Linked DNA regions of Homo sapiens. The protein of the gene in region 2 interacts with the protein of the main gene of each other region in a biochemical or structural test. Each region holds a gene or a part of one and is shown on either strand. Other genes may lie near its edges.

Evidence for each region. The genes of interacting proteins can lie anywhere in the genome.
Region 1: the proteins of UTP20 (region 2) and PPP1R26 form a complex in vitro, tested with the Homo sapiens proteins (one study listed by BioGRID).

Annotation. Positions count from the first base shown.
Region 1 is NC_000009.12:135,482,765-135,489,399, reverse strand, and holds the end of PPP1R26 (protein phosphatase 1 regulatory subunit 26), read right to left. Parts: 5' UTR 6,585-6,635; exon of another isoform or gene 6,575-6,584; intron 6,049-6,574; exon of another isoform or gene 5,847-6,048; intron 5,451-5,846; 5' UTR 5,318-5,450; exon of another isoform or gene 4,952-5,317; 5' UTR 4,890-4,951; coding exon 1,260-4,889; 3' UTR 508-1,259; downstream 1-507. UniProt on the Homo sapiens protein: Inhibits phosphatase activity of protein phosphatase 1 (PP1) complexes. May positively regulate cell proliferation.
Region 2 is NC_000012.12:101,275,657-101,283,117, reverse strand, and holds the start of UTP20 (small subunit processome component 20 homolog), read right to left. Parts: upstream 3,014-7,461; 5' UTR 2,836-3,013; coding exon 2,791-2,835; intron 2,003-2,790; coding exon 1,922-2,002; intron 1-1,921. UniProt on the Homo sapiens protein: Part of the small subunit (SSU) processome, first precursor of the small eukaryotic ribosomal subunit.

The DNA of each region.
Region 1 (6,635 bases), on a different chromosome or scaffold from region 2:
GACGGGGCTCCTGTTTCTGGAGGGCAGGTATGGAGAACGCTTATCCCCAGGACTGGGTTTTGCACGTCATCTCTGCCCTGGGTGTCTGGGGACCAAAGTTCAAAGCAGTGCTTATTGGTGTGTGCAAGAAAAGAAATTTGTTTTGTTTTGTTTTTTGAGATGGAGTTTCACTCTTGTCACCCAGGCTGGAGTGCAATGGCACGATCTCAGCTCACTGCCACCTCCGCCTCTTGGGTTCAAGTGATTCTCCTTCCTCAGTCTCCTGAGTAGCTGGGATTACAGGCATCCGCCACCATGCCTGGCTAATTTTTGTAGTTTTAGTAGAGACGAGGTTTTGCCATGTTGGCCAGGCTGGTCTCGAACTCCTGACCTCAGGTGATCCGCCCGCCTCAGCCTCCCAAAGTTCTGGGATTACAGGTGTGAGTCACCGCGCCCGGCCAGAGAAAAGGACATTTTAAGTGCACGTGTGTTATCTTTAAGAACCATGATTTAAAAAGAACAGTAACGCCATATAAAAAGAGGTTTATTTCGATGTTAGAATCATCTAGTGATCGAACAAGATTGGACATGAACCCACCCAGGCCCAGGGCTGGGCTGCCGAGCAGCTGCCGCTGACATCTGTGTGGATTTGACATGCAACAGGGAGTAGCCACGTGCTCGCTCGCTGGCCACTGTGCTTCGAAACGTTTTTCCAGCGGACGGCTGTGATTGCAGTTTTCAGATGTGCTCTGGCCTCTAAGGACGTGGGGCCGAGGCGGTGTCCTCTGTATAAAAAGTGCTGTCCTGGGAGCTTCCCAACGGACATCTTGGGGCATCTGAGTGATTCCCAGGGAGGGCAGCTTGGCCTTCCTCAGGCTACCACTGCAGCCACCGCCGGCCATTCTCACCAGCAATCAACCAAAAAGCATCAGAGCCTCTGTGAACCTGGCTGTGATGGTAAGAACCAAATGTTTCCTAAGCTAAGACTTGTATGCAGAACACAGAAAACTGCAGTTAGGAACACCCTACAAAATTGAACAACAGTATTTTCCAAAAATATCTTTTACATCACTTTAAATAATTTACAAAAAGCTACAAAAATCATATTTACCAGGACACGTCTGTTAAATAAAAGTTTCATGTTGGTGTACATATATACAGGGCTATGTATAATAGACTGTTTCCCTTCCTTGCAGCCACGGAACCATCACACACACGCACGGCTACGCCGCTTTCCACGAATGCACGCAACCCAGGACGCGAACCCACAGCTCGAGGGCTTAGACCTTCACTACTGAGCTGCCGCCACTGTCCTCCGTGGAGGTGTCGCTGAAGTCACTGGCGTCACTGCCCAAGGCGTCCTGCTCCTGGTCATCCCTGTTGACCCTTCGTCGATACCTCAGGTCTAAAATGCTTTCCTCCGAGCCCGAGCTCCTCCTGTCATGCAAACTCAGCCCTGCCTGTGCCTTCCTGGTTGGCCAGGGGCCGCCGTCCTTCTTTGCCAGCAAGTGTGGGCTTCCAAAGACAGGGCTGGGTCCGGCCTGGGCCTCCCTGAAGGCCGAGAAGGAGGGGCCCTGCAGAGGCAGCCCCAGGTGGGGGCTGAAGAGGCCAGCCTGCCTGCCCCCCCAGGAGACACCCTTTCCAAAGTGGAAGAGCTGGGTGGACAGCAGCGGCGAGAAGCCCGCAAGGGGCAGGCTGGGCAGGCCCCGGGCGGGGCCCTCGGACCCCTTGTCTCTCTCGCTCCCGACGCCCCCCCTCCACACTGCATCTCTGCCTTCGGAGCGCAGCACCCACGGGCTGGGCAGCCGACTCTGGTGGGCGAAGTCGCTCCAGGGCGGTGTGCGGTCGGCCTGGGCTCCAGCGTCCCTCTCCGCTCCCGGGCTGGGGGTCAGGAAGCTCGGGCTCCCGCAGCCCATGTGAAAGGTTCCTCTGGCGCCTCCTGCCTCGGTGCCCGCTGTGGCACAGCTGGGCAGCTGACCAAAAGCACTTTTGGCAGCAGGCTCAGCCCCTCGTGGGCTCTGGTCTTTGTGAACGTAAACATTTCTCCTGCTCACTGAGAGCCCCTTGGCGGAGACACCGCCGCTGGTGCTCCTGGGCGGCACCGGATCCCCTCGGGCAGGAGCAGCAGGGAGCCCCTTCCCGCCCTGGCTGAACAGACCAGCTGTGCCCTGTGCTCCTGCGCTCTCTGTGCCTCGAAGCCCTTCGGCCAGATGTGGGACCCCCCTGGCCCTCTGGCTGCGTGTGCACACGCCAGGCGGTGGGGCAGGCTCCTTCCTGCACAGCACCTCTGGCCTGGCTGGGCCCCCTGTCCCAAGAGCGGTGGGGCCCTCTGCCTGAACTTCTGAACTGCTCACTGACTCCTTGGCCTTTTCCGCCAAAAACTTCCTAATCTCCAGTTCGATGCTGTCGTTGCTGTCCACTGAACTGCTGTCATCAGACAGGGAGCCGGGGCTGGGAGCTGGGCCCTGGGACTCCCTGGGGAATGGATTCCCTTCGGAGGCAGAGGCGGAGGCGGGTCTCCTCACCCGGAAGGCCAGGGCCGCGTCCTGGCTCGCGGCACCCTCCTGCCTCATCCTCTCTGCCGTGCTGCCAAAGACACTGGGGGGTTTCTTCCCAGGACCCTCGCCACTGTCTCTCTTGGACTTGGAGAGGCAGCTCTTCAGCACTGGCGGGCCCCTGTCTTTCCAGTCTCTCCGGAGCCCGCCCAGCTGCTCCAAGAAGTGCGTCTGGGCTGTGCTGAACCTGACCTTCTTCCTGCACGCAGCCCTGGGCTCCCTGCACCTCTTCTTGAGCTTTCGCTTGGACCTTAACAAGTCCTTGATGGCTGTGTCCAGGTCCTCGTCACTGTCCAGGGAGCTGCTTTTGTCTTCAGAGCTCTCTTTCTCGTCTAGGCGCCTTGCCTCGTCTGTCTTACCCTGGCCCTGTGACATGCGAGTGTCGCCAGGGCCCCTGGCGGTGCCCTCCCCTCCCAGGGCCTCACTGGCTTTGCCCTGGATGGGCAGGTCTCGCCTCTCATGGCCGGGCTCAGCTCTCCCCTGGCTGTGGTCGGCATCCTGGCTACCGTCTTTCACCACCTCCTGCATTTTCTTGGGCGTGGATGGCCTCACATGGCCACCACCTCTACGCTTCCTTTTGCAGCCCAGCAGTGGGTCTGGTGTTTTAGAGAGAGGGGTCTTGTGGCCGCCGGTCTGGCTGTTGAGGCCAGGCGGCAAAAGTGGACCCTGGGCAGCCTGCGGGCAGCTCTCACCTCTGGCCAGCAAACTCCCTGACTGCGCCTTTAGGGCCAAAAATGTCCGGATTTCCTGCTCGATGCTGTCATCGCTGTCCACGGAGCTACTGTCGCCGTCAGAGCGGGAAGGCACGTTCGGGGAGTAGAAGAGTGGGCTTGCGGACAGGGACCCGTCACTGCCCTCTACAGGGGCCGGCAGGATCGTCTTGGAGATGTCCAGGATTGCTTCTGCACACATCAGCTCAGCAGATGTGTCCGCCCGGCACGAGGACCGTTCCACAAACTCACTCCTGGAAGCAGGGCTCGCTGGAGGTGGAGCTTTGGTTTCCTTCAGGAGCTTGGGGGCATGGTCAGTGTCCAGGCCCCCTGGACCAGGGTCCATGGTCTTGGTGGCCACTAGCTTCTTCTTGCTGGGTGTTTTCCTGTGGGTCTCGGGCAAGGCACTTTTTGTGGCACTGCTTGTGCTGTGTGCGGGAGGGTCAGGCGCTCTCTCCTCTCGGAGTTGGACCCTCTGGGGCAGGTCCCCGTCGGCCTCCTTGCGTGTTTTCTGCAGCTGGTACAGCTGGATGGCCTCCTCAATGCCATCGTCGCTGCTGGAGTCGGACGCCTCGGACGCCTGTGCCGCACTCATGACTCGCTTTCCCCTCCTTGCAGCGCTGGCGCTCCTTTTGATCCCACCTTTATTCTGTGCTGCTTCTGAAGGGCGGCAGGGGGTTGCCGGCTTCGTGCTGCCCTCGTTCTCCTGCGTGGTTGTGACCTTGGACCTGAGGCTTCTGGGCTGGACGTTCATCTTCGCTAACCGGGGAGGTTTGCGGAAGGCAAACTCCTTCTGGACGCCCAGCAGGCCCTGCCGATGCACCACCTTTGTAGGCGGCTCTTGGTGGGATTTCAAGAGTGACTTGGCGGAATTTTCATTTGTGTCTGGTTTCTTCTCCACTGACCCATCACATTTTTGGGTCTCATGCTGTCTCTTCTCATTCAGAAACTGTTCTATTTCCGCCCTGATGCTCTGCTCGAAGGAGTCATCGCTGCTCACACTGACCGGGGAGGCGGAGCCCTGGTCCTTGCTGGATCCCACCTGGCTGCCGGGGCCACCACCTGATCCAGGTACAAGTTTTGGGGGACACAGGGCAGTCGGGGCACTGCCGTGAGCCGGTTCCGGCTTACATCTACTGCCTCCGCCTGCGGCCCTGGAAGGCTGGGCTGCACCTGGCTGGGCCCCGCCGGCCCCGGGCTGTGCGGCTCCACTCTTTGCCTTCAGGTACTCCTGGATGGCCTCCTCAATGTCCCTGTCCACGGAATCATCACTGTCTGAATCTAGCACCAACGGGCCAAAGTCTGTAGTTTCCTCCTCCCCCATGGGGTCAAAGTCAGCAACGAGACCACAGACAGCCAACGCGGGTGGCTCCTTGTGCACGGTGGGCTTGGCAGCCGGCCTGGCGTCGTGGCATCCCTCTGCCCTGTGGCCCCTCTGTGCGGCGCGCTCATCGCTGGTGCCCCGAGCAGCCCCGTCGCGCTGCAGAGTGCTGATAAGCATCTGCACCCGGGCGCTCACCGACGCGCTCTCCACGCCCTCGTCAGCCTCCGAGAAGCACCTGGGGAACCTACAGCTCCCTGGCGGGCCAAAGGCCTCCCATTTGGACTGGAGAGCAACCACTGGAGAAGCGTTCATGAGAAACATTCTAGCAGACGGGGAGGGGCGCGCAGAGGGGCGATGCTTTATTTCTCTACCGGCTTCACATCCTGGGCGGAAAGAAAGCACATGGGCATGATGCAGCTACAAACAGCGATAGCTGCCAACACCAAGCGAGGCCCCAGAGGAACAGCATGTCGGGCTCACAGAGTGGAGAGAGTTGGGTGGAGCCCAACGTCCAGCTAGCTGGGTGTCCTTGCACGACTTACTCATGCTCCTGGGGCCTCGGATTCCTCAGCTGGGAAAGGAACAATTTACCTGCTCCAGCCCGGGGCTGCTGGGAAGATTCAGTAAGAAAATGTTTCCAACCACCCTCCACGGTGCCGCCCGGGGCACGCACGGTCATCACCTCCCCGCTCTTCCCTTCTCACTCCGGGCTTCCACCTTCTCTGTAAGAGGGGAGAGGTTTTATTTACCTCCAAAGTTGGCAAGCGGTACCCATGAGACAACGTCTGCAAATGCTTCTTTGCAGCTTAAAAAGGATGACTAGAAACCCAGGATCAGCACGCCGTCATGCGTAGGTTCATTCTTGACCCAACCGACAAGCTCCTGGAACGGAAAGTTGTATGATGTGAGCCACTCAGAAATTATTTCCCCAAACATCTTGAAGGGCTGCTTTTACTAAACCCTCTCTATGTTAAATGTCAAATGTAAATTTGCCAGGTGGTCGCATGGGACTGCATTGTTATTCTTAGCTAACTAGCACAGAAGTCACCCTGAACACAGTGATGTCCCCCTTCTCATCCTGCGCTGCCAGATTTCAGACCAAAGGTGGCTGCCTCAGCACAAGTGCTGGGCTGAGCTTGGGACACTTTGAAGACCTGCTCACGAATGGCCTGGGGATTGCCACTGCAGGGAGGAAGCTCAGGTGGATGGCAGTCACTTAGAACAATACCAGGGATACTGCGCAGCTATTCATTCTTAACACATTGCTCTGATACCCACCTGCCTACCCCAAAATTGCAGTGCAAAGCGGTTCTTGTGCAAGCAAGCCTCCAAGGCTTATGGACACTGAACTCCCCTTGGCTCAGAGGCTGTGGCTGCCCTCAGGACCTCAGCAGTGGGCGAAAACTGGCCAGTATGTTTTGCCTCTGTTATGGATTCTTCTTTACCAGGAGCTTTCTCCGGTTAACCAGGCGCTTCCTTCCTGACAAGCACATAATTGGGTATTTACATGCCACCATCTTTTCACAAAAACGTGAGGCTGTGGCCAGGTGTGGTGGCTCACGCCTGTAATCCAGCACTTTGGAAGGCCGAGGCGGGTGGATCACCTGAGGTCAGGAGCTCAAGATCAGCCTGACCAATATAGTGAAACTCCATCTCTACTAAAAAAACACAAAAATTAGCCGGGCATGGTGGCGCATGCCTGTAATCCCAGCTACTTGGGAGGCTGAGGCAGGAGAATTGCTCGAACCCAGGAGGTAGAGTTTGCAGTGAGCTGAGATCATGCCACTGCACTCCAGTCTGGGCGACAGAATGAGACTCCATCTCAAAAAAAAAAAAAAAAAAAAGAAAGAAAGAAAAAGAAACAAAAGGTGAGCCTGGCCACCTACACACAGGTGAGCCCAAAAGGGGTAACCAGCAATTAACCAGGGGGTGAGACAGATTCAGAAGTAAGTCATTTGCTAGCACCAATTTGTGCCCTACAAGGGAAACTAAAATACAAGAATTACTTGAAATTACTTGAAATTCTGTGAGTCCAGGTTGACTGTGATGAAATGGCAGCCAGTGTTC
Region 2 (7,461 bases):
AAGTCACCTATACTCCAGATCCATATATACAAACATCTTTTGGACACTATCATTTGGATGGCCAAAGGTATTTCAAATTCAAGCCCCAAATGGAACTAATTATCTTATCTTTACAACCTTGTGCTCCTTTACCTATAAATATATCTTGATGAGTAACATCCTCAACCATTCAGCCTTAACCTCATTATCTTCCTTGCTGCAAACCCAGTAGGTCACAAGTCCTATCCATTCATTCTACTTCCTCAACATCTCTGGAATCTTTCTCTTCTCTCTATCTTGATTGCTGCTACCATAATCATTTCTTACTTAGATAACAGTCAAATCCTCACAACTGGACAACTGAGATTGGATCTCCAAGTTAAAGGCATGTTACACAGGACCTTAAAAGGCTAGCAGAGGAATCATGACATGATGAAGAACTGCAGTCCTGCTCTTTTCTCCACACTAAAGCCAGAGAGATTGAAAATTTAAACCTGATCATGTCATTCATTCCCCTGCTTACAGTCCTAGAACTCTAAGTCCCTACAGCTTCAGGATAAAACCCCAACTTAGCTTCACATATGAAGTCCTTTATGATCCTTGCCTATTTCTCCAGCTTTATCTCACCAGTTGCCCCCTTGCCCCATCCCAGTCACCATGAATACAAAAAAAAAACACCCTATACACACCTATAACCACACTGGACTGCTTTGCAGTTTCTTGAATGTGACATGCATTCTCTAGCTTCTGTTCCTTTATATAGGCTTCTCCCTCAGCCTGGAACAGGCTTTCCTGTCCTCTTTACCATGCTAAAACCTATATAAACAAAATTCAGGTGTCACCTCGTCTAGATCACCGTTTTTTTGACACCCCTAAAGAATGTAGGTTAGGTTCCCTTTACTATGAGTTCTCAAAGCACAATGTGCTCACCTAGACGACATCATTTAACACATTGAATTTACACAGTGGAGATAATGCATTCAAAGACCCAGCGAGTGGAGTCTGATTATAGTAAAGAAGAATATTACGAACTGAGATTGGATCGCCAAGGTATAGGCATGTTACGTACGACCTTAAAATGCTAGGAGGAATAACGACATGATGCAGAAAAAGACTTCTGCATAAAAGGATGACAAGGCCGGGCGTGGTGGCTCACACCTGTAATCCCAGCACTTTCGGAGGCCAAGGCGAGCAGATCACGAGGTCAGGAGATTGAGACCATCCTGGCCAACATGTCAAAACCCCGTCTCTACTAAAAATGCAAAAATTAGCTGGGTGTGGTGGCACGTACCTGTAATCCCAGCTACTCGGGAGGCTGAGGCAGGAGAATCGCTTAAACCTGGGAGGTGGAGATTGCAGTGAGCCAAGATCACGCCACTGCACTCCAACCTGGAGACGGAGCGAGACTCCATCTCAAAAAAATGAATAAATAAATAAAAGTAAAATAAAGGGATGACAGAGTCAGAGTATGGTTAAAACTGGAAAATATTATGTAGTCTAGCCCCTTTATTTTTATAAAGGAGAAAATTAAGCCCCGGGAAAAGGGCTTCCTCAAAATCACTTTAAAGTTATAGCTTCAGGAATATGGATCTGCAGCAGTGCTTGGAATGCATAAGGGAAAGGGAGAGGCTAGAATCACAAAGACAGCTGAAAGTCAAGTCAATTGTCTAATAGAGCTTCACCCAACAGAACTTTCTGCAAAGATGAAAATGTTCCAATTCTATATTTATTCAATATGTTAGCAACTAGCCACATTTGGGCACCCAAATTTTTAATTTACTTTAAATCCAATTTGTCATATGTGGCTACTGTATGAAACAGCACAGGTCTAAAGCATTTCATGTCCAAAAAGGAATACCTTGAAAAACAATTCACTTCTACTAACAGAAGAAACTAAAACACCATGAACACTTGAAGATTGACTAGTATCACATTCTCTTACCTCCTCATAGCTTGCAGTTCTATCAATCCGGTGAATAATATCAATATTAACATTCCCCAGTCGTTCAGCAAATGTAAGAAACTGGAAGGGAAAGTATATTTAAGATACATAATTAATTAAAATTTATCAGATCTTTAATATCTATTTGAATGCTGCATGTAGGCATCTCTAATCACAAAGGATAAGTGGAAAAATAAACTGAAAAACATACGGCCGTAAACAAATTTACTGCATCACTGTTCAAAGATAATGAATACTTCTATGTTTGCATAATTTCTCTCAGCTATGTCATTTCAAATAAAATTTCCATTGCCAGACTGGTGAGCCTAGGTGGATGCTGGCAATTAGTCTCGCTAGATCTATTAGGTTTCATACCCTCCCATAAGCATGGGGACCTAGCAAAGTCGCTGCAATAAAAGTGTTTTTAAACATATACAGACCTATGATTGTATCCTAAGGAAGACCTGGAAACAATCTATCAAGGGGCAAACAGAGAAAGCGCTGTATATTTGCCCTTAGCTGGGAATCACTCACCGCCAGCCGACTCGCCCAATTCGGTCTTTAAAGATAAAAGAGCAGGGGAGAATTGGTCCTAAGCAATCTCCTGGAATAGTGAATTTAATTCTGGACTACAGGAAATTCCCAGGACTGGCCAGACCCCATAAAACATGGGTGAAACTTGCTGTCCACACTTCTTTCCTCCTCCAACCCATGTTTACTACATCCAGTGTCTCCCTCTTTCGCCGGAGCCTCCAGGAAAGTGACACACTCGGCCCAGAAGTCTGAGGCCCCTGGAGTCTCGCTCAGAGCCTGTCTCACGACTGAGGCAGCGGAGACCCGCGGCTCCCTGCCTAAGCTCCCGCGCTCACCCGGTAGGTGTTCTCGGTCTTGTGGGAAACGGGCTTTGTCTTCATGGCTGCAGAGGGCCAGTGGCCCGCGACGGCCTCGGGAGTGTCGAAGGGATGCAACCGACAGTAAGGAGGGGAAAGCGGCTCACAGGCTATACTCTCCGATTCCCAGATGCCCAGACTTTCTCACGTGCGGCTTGAGCCCCTGGGCGCCGCCATGTTGGAGACAAGGAGGAGCCTGAGTGGGTCACGTGGACGGAAAAAAGAACGGCGCAGGCGCACCCTTTGGTGGGGTGGGGCCTACAGGAGGCGGGGCTGCGCACATAAGGGCGGGCGTTTGGGTGAGGTGTTCTTTTCACTCCCTTCGGTAAAGGTTTAGAAGACAAATGTATTTTCATTATAAAATAAAACATACCTGTAATCGTTATCAACTAACATTACTGTCCCTCACTACGTACCTGCATCGTGCAAAGATCCTTTCATCCATAATTTCACAGTAAAGCTTATTAGGGATGTTAATACAAAGGAGGTACTGCGTCTATCTATATATCTATATATAGATATATACTTTTTTTTTTTTTTTTTTGAGACGGAGTCTCACTCTGTCTCCCAGGCTGGAGGGCAGTGGCGCGATCTCGGCTCACTACAATCTCCGCCTCCCGGGTTCAAGCAGTTCTCCTGCCTCAGCGTCCAAAGTAGCTGGGACTACAGGCACCCGCCGCCACGCCCGGCTAATTCTTTTGTATTTTAGTAGAGACGGGGTTTCACCTTGTTGCCCAGGCTGGTCGCGAACTCCTGAGCTCAGGCAATCCGCCCGCCTCGGTTTTCCAAAGTGCTGGGATTACAGGTGTGAGCCACCGCGCCTGGCCGGTACTGTGTATATTTTTAAGCCAATTTGACACAAGAGGAAACCAAGGTTGTGCAGCTGGTAACTGGCAGTCTTCACTCAGACTCTAAATTTTGGTATTCTTAACCACTACGCTGTAAATAAAATTGAAAAATAGAGAAGGAGTTTTAAGAAAAATCTTTTAATTTCATGCACAACCGCTGTTAATGTTTGGTGTTTTTCCCATCACTTTAATGTCTACACATAGCATGTTGTTAAATTGTACAGTTATATATACATATATGTACAATTTTAAAAAATAATTTAAAAATATAATTATTTACCCCATTTTACATTCATTCATTCATTCAGCAACTATTTCTTGAGAGTCCTCTGTGGACCAGGTACTGTTCTGGGAGCCAAACGAGAAAGGCAATAATAGTATTAATTAATTATTTGAAAATATTCACAGCCTTCAATTCCTGGGCTAAAGTGAGCCTCCCACCTCAGCCTCCCAAGTAGCTAGGGCTACAGGCATGCACCACCACACCCAGCTCTTTTATTATTATTATTATTATTATTATTATTATTATTATTATTTGTAGAGATGGGATCTTGCTATATTGCCCAGGCTGGTATCAAACTTCTGGACTCAAGCAGTCCTCTTGGCTTGGCCTCCCAAAGTGCTGGGATTACAGGGGTGAGCCACCATGCCCAGACTGGAAATACTTGGTCTGAGATGCTTACATTTTAGTCAAGGAGTGATGTTAAGTAGACAATTGGATATATTGTTGTACAGAGCTCACTGTAGCAGTCTGGGCTGCAGACGTGACTTAAATACACCTAAATACCTCAAGTGTGAGGCATTTGCGACTGGGAAAGAGAGCCAGTAAGGTAGAAACAGACTAGTTATGGCATGGAAGCAGAGCTGGTGGCCAACTATACTGCAAATTCGAGGATAGAGAAGTGGTTGCTGGATCTGACAAGGTGAAGGTCACTGGTGACCTTGCTAAGTACAGTCTAGTTGGAAGAAAGGAAGTGAAATATGCATGGATTGAGGAGGTAATCAGAGTTGAGAAAGTGAACATAACACTTTCAAATTGTTATTGGCATTATCACATCAACATTTTCTGTGTCACCACAGGGTTGTTCTAAATATTTTAATGCCTCCATAGCATTTATAGATTTTTTTATAATAAAATATTGACGTGCCTAATGTTCCATTGGCTTTCAGTAGGCTAATAATTGGTCTTTTTTTTTTAAAAGCCTTTTATGGGTCACAGGGAAATCTAAGAAAGCTGTAGAACTTCTCCCAGAAAGATGCAAAGAAGCTCATCCACACTAAAATGTGCACGTTTCAGAGAGTTAGAAGCCTGCAGTTAACTGAGGGTAGAAGCCCCCACTCAAAGCAATATTTTCCCAACCTGTTGCCAAAATCACCCCCACATCATTGTGCCATTTTCCTTCTCTGCAATTTATTTTTGGTAATGGAGTTAACTGGACAATAAGGAGTGAAGAGAAAAATCAAAGAAACTGAAAGAACTGACACAAGTTATATTGACCATTTATTGTTTGCATTGTTCTTCATTACATGACCCTCACACACTGACTTGACTCTGACTGGCTTAACAATATGTCAATAGAACATGGTGGTTGAGAGCATAGATGCTGGAACCAGGTTGTCTGGAGGTAATCCTGGTTCTGCCATTTATTAGTAGGGTCAGTTACCCTTTCAGAATGACATTTCCGTATATGTAAATGAAGCTAACAAAAGTAGCTACCTCACGGGTGGTGATTATGCAGAGTAAATAAGCTAATGGATAAAAGATGCTTAGAATGTGCCAGACACCATAATTGCGCAAGCTCAGAAATTACTTAACCTTTCTGAGACCCAATTTCCTCATCTATAAAATAGAGATGACAATAATACCAGTCTTTCAAGATACTGTGTTGGTGCATAGAGCATGAAATAAATGTTTGCTAAGTGGATAAATAAATGACCATTTATTCTCTACTACCTGGCTACCTGACAAGTTCCTTAAGGGCTGACACCTTATACTTTTTCAACTTTGTGTCATCAGTTCCCTTGAACATAAGAGTTGTTTAATGAATGTCTGTTGAATTAACAAAGCTTATAATACTTACATTGACCCGGACAAATTTAAGAGTAATATAGTTCCAGCATTGGATGTGAATTGCACCACATGATTTTTGGTATCTCTCAAAACTAAGTTTCTAAGCTTTAATGGAATACCGAAAGCATCCGTGAAGAGCACGAGTGTTTCTTATAAACATTTCCTTGCTTCCAGCGTTTGTCCTCTGTCAAGGTATAGGATGAATATCCTATACCATCCTTTATATCCTTTTTCCATTAGGGCTCTGCCTGTCCTAACTACTCCAGCCAGTAAATAACATACATTATTTTTTCATTCTTTTATTCTTAAGCTTTATAGGGCGCTCCTGGAAGTTTTGCTTTTTAATTTTTGTTTCCTTATTGCTTAGCGTGCTGCAATTTCAAGCCAAGAAACTTTAAGAGCATGTAAGAGCTAGGCCCAGTGGCTCATGCCTGTAATCCCAGAGCTTTGGGAGGTCAAGGTGAGAGGATTGCTTGAACCCAGAAATTTGAGACCAGTCTTGGGCAACAAGGCGAAATCCCATCTCTACAAAAAATACAAAAATTAGCCAGACATGGGGATGTGCACCTGTAGTCCCAGCTACTCAGGAGGCTGAGGTGGGAGGAACACTTGATCCAGGAGGTCAAGGCTCCAGTGCTGTGATCCTGCGACTGCACTCCAGCTTGGGTAACAGAGTGAGACCCTGTCTTGAAAGAAAAAAAAGGAAGGAAGGAGAGGGAGAAAGAAGGGAAAGTAAAGGAAAGGAAGGGAGGGGAGAGGAGGGAAAGGAAGGGAAGAAAGCACATGAGGAGTTTACCCAGCCTAGACAAGAAAGTGGAATCCAGAGAAGGCTTCTTGGGGGAAGTGACATCTAAGCTGAGACCTGGAAAATGAATAGGAATTAGCCAGGCAAGGAATGGACATGAATGGTGTTATCTAGGTAGAGGGAGGAGTATAGGCATTTGTCTCAAAATGGTTGAGACAAATTTGGTTACTTTTAGTTTCCAAGGCAAAGCCACACCCTGTCAAATTAGCATTGGCCATGGGTATCATCTTTAGCATCCTTGGACTAATAATAGGAAAGAATAGGGACAAGATGAAGCTCAGAGGTAAGAAGAGCCTTGGTTTTCTCATCTGTAAAGTGAGATAGACATATGAGAAAGTCAACAGTCATATGAGACAGTTGAAAGATTAACACATTGTATCACTTCTCACAGTCATATGAGACCGTTGAAAGATTAATTAATACATTGTATCGCTTCTCAGCCTTTTGGCTAAGATCAAGTCTAGTAATTAACACATTGTATGTGGTGATCTGGAAGGGGGCAAGTCGACCTAGTGGCATGGTCTTGTTTAGAAAGCAGTTCAAGGAGTGCTGTGTATCAGGGCAGAGAGGATTTGACTCAGAACAAGGGACCAAGGAAGTGAATGTAAAAAAAAGAAAGAGAAGAGAAAGTTTTAGTAATTCTTTGTTGGTTTTTTCTTAAATAGAGACAGGGGTCTCACTACATTGCCCAGGCTGGTCTTGAACTCCTGGGCTCAAGCGATCCTCCTGCCCAGCCGAGTAGTTCTTGACTGTGGTAGTAAGGAAAGCTGATCCACGTATCTCTTCTTGAGAAAACTGTGTATTGTTGACAGTGTGTGTAAATCAGGAAGCAGTGAGAGCATGGAGTTTGGATTTGGGACAACTGGGTCCCAGTTCTAGCATTTTTCATGTATTAGCCAGTAACTGGGCAACTGACTTAACCTTTC